Linked DNA regions of Homo sapiens. The protein of the gene in region 2 interacts with the protein of the main gene of each other region in a pairwise test. Each region holds a gene or a part of one and is shown on either strand. Other genes may lie near its edges. The genes, in order: GTF2B and LPIN1.

What was found.
Region 1: the proteins of LPIN1 (region 2) and GTF2B interact in binary tests that used the Homo sapiens proteins (3 or more experiments, as listed by UniProt).

What each region holds. Positions count from the first base shown.
Region 1 is NC_000001.11:88,884,984-88,888,806, forward strand, and holds part of GTF2B (transcription initiation factor IIB), read right to left. Parts: intron 2,385-3,823; coding exon 2,278-2,384; intron 1-2,277. UniProt on the Homo sapiens protein: General transcription factor that plays a role in transcription initiation by RNA polymerase II (Pol II). Involved in the pre-initiation complex (PIC) formation and Pol II recruitment at promoter DNA.
Region 2 is NC_000002.12:11,819,547-11,823,369, forward strand, and holds part of LPIN1 (phosphatidate phosphatase LPIN1), read left to right. Parts: coding exon 1-52; exon of another isoform or gene 53-204; intron 205-864; coding exon 865-968; intron 969-3,823. UniProt on the Homo sapiens protein: Acts as a magnesium-dependent phosphatidate phosphatase enzyme which catalyzes the conversion of phosphatidic acid to diacylglycerol during triglyceride, phosphatidylcholine and phosphatidylethanolamine biosynthesis and therefore controls the metabolism of fatty acids at different levels.

The DNA.
Region 1 (3,823 bases), on a different chromosome or scaffold from region 2:
TATAACTGCATCACTGCAATTAGTATGCTGAGCAGCAGAAAAAAAGTGATGAGAGCTGCACATGTGGTTTCTGTTGAAGCTACTAAGCTCTGCTGTTGTAATGTGAAAAGAGTCATATACACTATGTAAACAAGTGAGTGTTGCTATATTCCATTAAAACTTTATAGATACCAGGCCAGGTATGGTGGCTTACACCTGTAATCCCAGCACTTTGGGAGGCTGAGGCTGGTGGATCACCTGAGGTCAGGAGTTCAAGACCAGCCTGGCCAACATGCTGAAACCCTGTCTCTACTAAAAATACAACAAGTTAGCCAGGTGTAGTAGTGGGCCCCTGTAATCCCAGCTATTCGGGAGGCTGAGGCAGGAGAATCACTTGAAACTGGAAGGCAGAGGTTGCAGTGAGCTGGGATCGCACCACGGCACTCCAGCCTGGGCAACAAAAGGGCAACAAGAGCGAAACTCTGTATCAAAAAAAAAACTTTGGCCAGGCGCAGTGGCTCACGCCTGTAATCCCAGCACTTTGGGAGGCCAAGGCGATCGTATCACCTGAGGTCAGGAGTTCGAGACCAGCCTGACCAATGTGGAGAAACACCGTCTCTACTAAAAAAAATACAAAATTAGCTGGGCATGGTGGCACATGCCTGTAATCCCAGCTACTTGGGAGGCTGAGGCAGGAGAATCACTTGAACCCGGGAGGCGGAGGTTGTGGTGAACCGAGATCACGCCATTGCACTCCAGCCTGGGCAACAAGAGCAAAACTCCGTCTCAAAAAACAAACGAAGAAAAACTTTATAGATACTGAAATTTGTATTTTCACATGTCCTAAAATATTATTTTTGATTTTTTTTAACCATTTAAAAATGTAAAAGCCAGAATTAACAAATAGGCCATATATAGGTTGTACTTTGACGACCCCAGATTAAAATTTTATTATTATGAAAGGCAATACAAGATAGAAATCTGCCTCCCACGCAGACAATGGAGCCAGTCTTCTAGACTACCTAAACGTCAGTTTCCTTATCTGTAAAATGAAGATAATGGTAGTACTCACCTCACAGGTTTGTTGTGAGGATAAACTGAGTGAATATGTAAATCATTTAGAATAGTGCCTAGTATATAGTAAACATATTAGCTATTAATATTCCTTACTCAGCAGAATACGGTTGCAAATGATTCTCAATTCCTATTAGCAACTCTATACTTTAAAACTCCCACTATAGGTCTGAGGCAAGCAGCCTTCTTGGACCAAGTAAGTCAAGTCCACAGTATGCCACTACTAATGCTTCTGTTATACTGCCCACAATCCTTCTAGAATTTTCATTCTTAAGTAATTCAAACTGCTAAATATTACCCCTATTCTCAGATGCTACAACTCCACCACAAGAATAATTTTTGAACAGACTATCTGTAGTCTAAAGTTCTGCTGCATATCTAGATTAGTGTGCAAGTAGGAACAAGGTGAAACTTTAAGTGTTATTTTTGGCAATAATTTTATACAAGATATTCATCAATAGATGACTGTATAAAAGTTATAATAAATCTTCTTTTTGACTAAAAGGCTTTAAGTGGGACTCAAAAATCATGTTTATCTACTTCCCAATGTATAAAAAAGCCACAAAAGTTTGATTACATGTATTCATTATTTAATATGCATGAGTGTCAGCCCATCTCTCCAGTCCTCTACCAAATATTTCAGACTAAGGACTTATGAAATTACTGGGGCCTTTTCGTTTCTTCTGGATTAGCTCCCACCCCACATTATAAAAATATACATTTGGATATACAATAAAATATATCTCTGAATAAGTTTACTCGTTTCTGTTTCCTAATTGTTTTTTTGCAATAAATTATTTGTTGGGGAAGAAAGTCAAAAATGTGTTCATTAAATGATAGTTTGGAAACTATGCAAAAGTGAAGGACCCTAAACATTATTATTATTATTATTTTTTTTTTGAGACGGAGTCTTGCTCTGTTGCTCGGGCTAGAGTGCAGTGGCACGATCTCGGCTCACTGCAACCTCCGCCTCCTGGGTTCAAGCCATTCTCCTACCTCAGCCTCCTGGGCAGTTGGGATTACAGGTGCCCACCACTACGCCCGGCTAGTTTTTGTATTTTCAGTAGAGATGGGGTTTCTTCATGTTGGTCAGGCTGGTCTCGAACTCCTGACCTCAGGTGATCCTCCCACCTTGGCCTCCCGAAGTGCTGGAATTACAGGCGTGAGCCACCATGCTTGGCCTCCTGAACAGTAATTTAAATTAAAACCATAATAACAACTCACCTACAACCAAGCCACATTCAGGACAGATCATATCACCGGCTCTGTAGTCCTCCACTAAAATCGCATCTGGATGGTTTGGACATGTGACTCTTGGAAGAGCATCCAAACTAAAAGAAAAAAGTTGTATTTTTACATCTTCCCAACCAACATGTATCAAATTAATCTTCTGGGATGGGGGATGGGGAAGACAAAGATTGTGAACGTTTTTTCATACATACAACTGTAACACATATAAGCTAGATTTTCAAAGTAAACATCCCAGTTAGGTTATTTTAAATTCCAGCTAGTAACTGGCAAGTAGTTTCCACTGGAATTCTTATTTTATTGTGGAAGGCTTTCAAAACATAAATAGAAAATAATTGTTTCTTCTCTCAATATGTATGCCAGTAAGACTTTTAGAAATGTTGATTAGTATAGTAATGACTAGTTACCGTAATAACCTGCAGCATTTACATTACCATCCAGTTTGTGCTCTTTGCCACTTATTTCTCTAGTCAGAGAACAATTTCTCTCTGTATTTTTCTACTTGTTAACTACTTTAGTAACAGATTTAAATAGTACACTGAACCCAGTAAGTATAGAAATGAGGGATGGTAGAAGTTGCTCTGCTGAACTTAAGACTTGATGATTTCCTTTAGTCCAGAATTGAGTTATTGAATTTATCATTCAAGAAATTGTTTCAAAAGCTACTTGTTATCTGTGATATTAATAATTAGCTCAATTTATTTTGAACAACAAAGCAGTTTGCAGAAGACACATTCATCTTTTTTTGACACATTAATCTTAAATGATCTGACAGAATCAGCTGTAAAAGCAACAAAGATTTGATCATTATTTCAGGGGGTATGACCTCACAATCATAAATTCTTGGTATCACTGCAAATAAGGCCCTTTTAAAAACCATCTGAAATACAATAAATGGTTAGGTTATGGACATCAGATACACGTAAAAGACAAAATCAACTGTTCTTATAGTATGTAAATAGTATTTGTGGTTTGGGGTAAAGTTTCTCATGCTAGCAAATACAATTCAGAATGTTAACTCTCAACTCAGAAGGTGATATCTACGGGAAAACTGATAAAATAATCCATATTCCCCCCTAAACTTATCTAGTCAGCTTAACTAGAATATGTCTTGAATCTTCTCATTGGGAACACGGGGGGATGAGTATTACTTCATATTTGTGTTTATTCCATAAATTCCTCTAAGGAAAGTATTTTAATAAATTATGACAAATAAAATTAAACAGTTGATATAAATTATGAAAAACCATGTTGAAATAAAGGAAAATGTTAGCAGAGTAACAGTAATTACAAATTAGTAAAAGAGGAGGCCATGTGCAACACGTGCTAAGAACTAATATCTCTGCAGTATTAAAAAGTAGATAGAAAACTATAGTTTGTGTAATGATACAGAAACATCTCAAAGATATGAAGAGTGAAGAATAAGGTAGAAAACCTATACAAAGCTGAAAAGTATGAACTAACCATACACCATAACATGGATGAACCTCAAAATACTAACAGAATCTAGACAGCAGAATAC
Region 2 (3,823 bases):
GTTTTTCCCCAACACAGAACCCTTTTATGCTGCTTTTGGAAACCGACCAGCTGTAAGTAGTAGATTGGGTATAGAAGAACCCTTGAAATGACTGCCTTTTCTGGTTGCTGTCATCTGAAAGCCCTATCCGAGAACCATATGTAGAGTCAGATTCTCATCCCAGAAGCAGTAGCCTGGTGAAGAGCCACTTGCCCACATCTAAAGGCAAGGGGATTACAAATTATCTTATGGCTTCCAGGGTTCTTTGAAGGTTGGCGGGTGGGTCAAAGCTTGAGATATGGGACTTAAAACTCCAAATTTCAAATTACTCATTAAAGCAGTAAAGCAAGAACATTTAATCGGATTAGTTTCTTTCTACCAGAAGGGAACCGCAAAATCAGTCCTAACCATAATGGCGAATTCAGCATCTCACGTTTTAAGTGTCTAGTGTTGTCTCGTATCATGAAAGAAGCGCTTTGAGATTTTGCATGTATTGCCCGCATTTACTGGAAAGCTAAGTATTCTAGAGAATGTAGTTGGGTACTAACTGCTCCATCAGAAAGTCCTACTTTTGAAAGTTACGAGAGATTTTCATGAAGTAGGAATATGGGTCAAAGAATAACCTGAAGGAATGTTAGAATTGCGGGGACGTGGTAGGTTGTCTTTTCTTCAACTCAGTCCTTGAACAGATGAGGGAATTGAGGCCCAGAGAGCAAAACTAATTGAATAGTTTCCCATCAAAGGATATTCTTTCACTGCACCACTTTGAGGTAGAGCTCTGGTTAATGAAAATTTGATATCTCATCAAATCAGAAATACCATGGACTTGTTTTTACAATGAACTCTTTTCTAATGAACACTTTAAATCACCTTTACCAAATATAGGATGTGTATTCATACAAGCAAGTAGGAGTGTCTTTGAATAGAATATTTACCGTCAACCCTAAAGGAGAGCTGGTACAGGAACATGCAAAGACCAACATCTCTTCGTGAGTATTGTACACATTTTATGTGATTATGATATCAGTACTATTATCTTAAAACGGTGCTTCCCAGTTTGCGGTGTACCTTTTCCCCTTTGCTGCCTATATGTTAATCTGTAATTCTTATAATGAAAAAATGTATTTTAACTCCTTGTATTTTGTCCAAAACATAATTTTTAGACAACTGGAATTAAATCAGATCCCTTCTGGGTCTAAAATTTAAACTCGTGGTTAGAGTCTGCTACAGAATGGAATTGAATGAATTTGAAAACTAGTAGTTTAGATTTGCCAAGTTAGGTTTGAAAGCCTAGAATGTGAATGAGAAATATAACCAAACTGAAATATGTGAAGTTATATTTAAAGATGAGGAACTGTATATCTCTTCACATACCAAATGTTTCTTACCAGAGACATTGCTGTGTAATTGTTAAGAATTCCCTTCATATTTTTGGTCAAAGCCCAGTTTTTCTGAGTCGGTGGGCTAAATGGGATTACTCTTTCTAATGAGGCATCCTTGTGTGCTTAGAATCACTCTTGACTTTATCCTGTCCCCCTCGGGTTCCTAACTTATTAGGATGGAGAGCATTTCCTCATTCCATGTTGTTGGGAGGTTGGCCCACTGGGTGACATCAGCCCAGGCCGACCCTTGTCTTCCTGCCTTGTCCATTTCAGAGACTACACCTCTTCTGGTCTGGTCTGTGCAGACCTGGAAAAGAGCCTCTGGCAGGCCAGGCACGGTGGCTCATGCCTGTAATCCCAGCACTTTGGGAGGCTGAGGTGGGTGGATCACCTGAGGTCAGGAGTTCGAGACCAGCCTGACCAACATGGAGAAACCCCGTCTCTCCTAAAAATAGAAAAATTAGCCAGGTGTGGTGGTGCATGCCTGTAATCCCAGCTACTCAGGAGGCTGAGACAGGAGAATCACTTGAACTCGGGAGGCAGAGGTTGCTGTGAGCCCAGATCGTGCCATTGCACTCCAGCCTGGGCGACAGAGCTAGACTCTGTCTCAAAAAACAAAAGAGCCTCTGGCCTTAGTGGCCCCAGATAGCCCGAGGGGTTCCTCTTTATCTGGAGGAGTTAGACTGGGGGAGTTTGGTTCTAGGAGATTCCTAAGGATTGGTTTTCTCCATGTAGCTTCTGTGGTTTTAGATAGAGAGATAAGTTCTCTCTAGGGCAGATTTTTACTTTCAAGATGGTCCTTAAACTAGTTGGATTCTAACTGAGTGTCAATAGGGCAGTTCTAGGCTAACAGGAGTCCTGGGGCTGCCCCACAAGACTCCTCTCACCCTGCAGTCATGCCAGTACCCAAGCAGTCCTCAAGGTTTGTGCAGAGAGAGGGGAGGCTGGAGCCAAGGCCCTGTTCCCTCCTGCAGAAGGCGAGGCAGTGCCAGGCTGCTTCCTGATTGGCAGAAAAACAGCAGGAACTTGATTCCTTTCTTAACCCTTCCTTGCGGTTTCTGCCACCTCCACTGTTCTAAGTGGCTGACTGTGACAATGTCTCGTTCCCACTCCCCTCTCATTCCCCAGGCTGGAGAGGACCTACTGGGTTTCTATTTAGGATCTGTGTTATAGTCTGTTTTCATGCTGTTAATAAAGACATGGACCCAAGGCTGGGTAATTTATACAGGAGAAAGGATTTAGGCTGGGCACGATGGCTCATGCCTATAATCCCAGCACTTTGGGAGGCCGAGGTGGGTGGATCACCTGAGGTCAGGAGTTCAAGACCAGCCTGACCAACATGGTGAAACCCTGTCTCTACTAGAAATGCCAAAAAAAAAAAAAAAAAAAAAAAATTAGCCAGGCATGGCAGCTTGCACCTGTAATCCAACTACTTGGAAGGCTAAGGCAGAAGAATCACTTGAACCCAGGAGACGGAGGTTGCAGTGAGCCAAGATCATGCCACTGCCCTCCAGCCTGGGTGACAGAGTGAGACTCCATCTAAAAAAAAAAAAATTAAAAAAAAAAGGGGAGACCTCACAATCATGGTCAAAGGAGGCAAGGAGGATCAAGTCATGTCTTACATGGATGGCAGCAGGCAGAAAGAGAGCTCGTGCAGGGAAACTCCCCCTTATAAAACCATCAGATCTCATGCGACTTTATCACAGGGACAGCATGGGAAAGACCTGCCTCCATGATTCAGTTAACTTCCACTGAGTCCCTCCCACAACACGTGGGAATTCAAGATGAGATTTGGGTGGGGACACAGCCAAACCATATCAGGATCAAAAAGAACTTTGAACCAATGAGACGCTGTCCAGGAATGGGAAAGTGGCAGGTCTTGCCATGCACGCATGGAAAGAGGGACTCCAGCATCTGAGAGGGTTTGGCTAGGTGGCCTCTGCGGTCATTGCATTGACTGAGGCTCTAGGGTTAAAATGCACACCTCGCCCATGGCTTGGCCTAGGGTGGAGCTCTGCAGACTTTACTCATTGCCAGGGGATGTTGACATTTTACACCTGGACTGGAGGCGGGGTTGTTCCTGTGAGAGAGTAAATCTCCTCCCCCAGGAAGCTCACATTTCTCTGGCGCTGAACTTGGTATAGCTATTTCTGAGCCAAGTAGATGCTTGTCATTCAGAACTGGGACAGTCATCTGAAATGTCTTCAGAGGCTGGGGCCACACAGCGGGAGCAGCTCAGTTCTTTTTCCCTTTCGTTTGCGAGTGTCTGTGCGTAAGCTCTGCCTGCTTGGGAGGAGCACTGTGTGTGGAGGTCGGTCTGGGGGAGGCGCGCAGATGGAACTCGGCCTGGCCGCTCAGGGAGTGTGAGAGTGGGTTTGGTTCCAGTGCACCGCGGCCTTGTAGTCAAGCCTGCAGGGAGGGGCCCTGCTGCCGCAGCCACAAACCTCAGACAAATAAGCCTT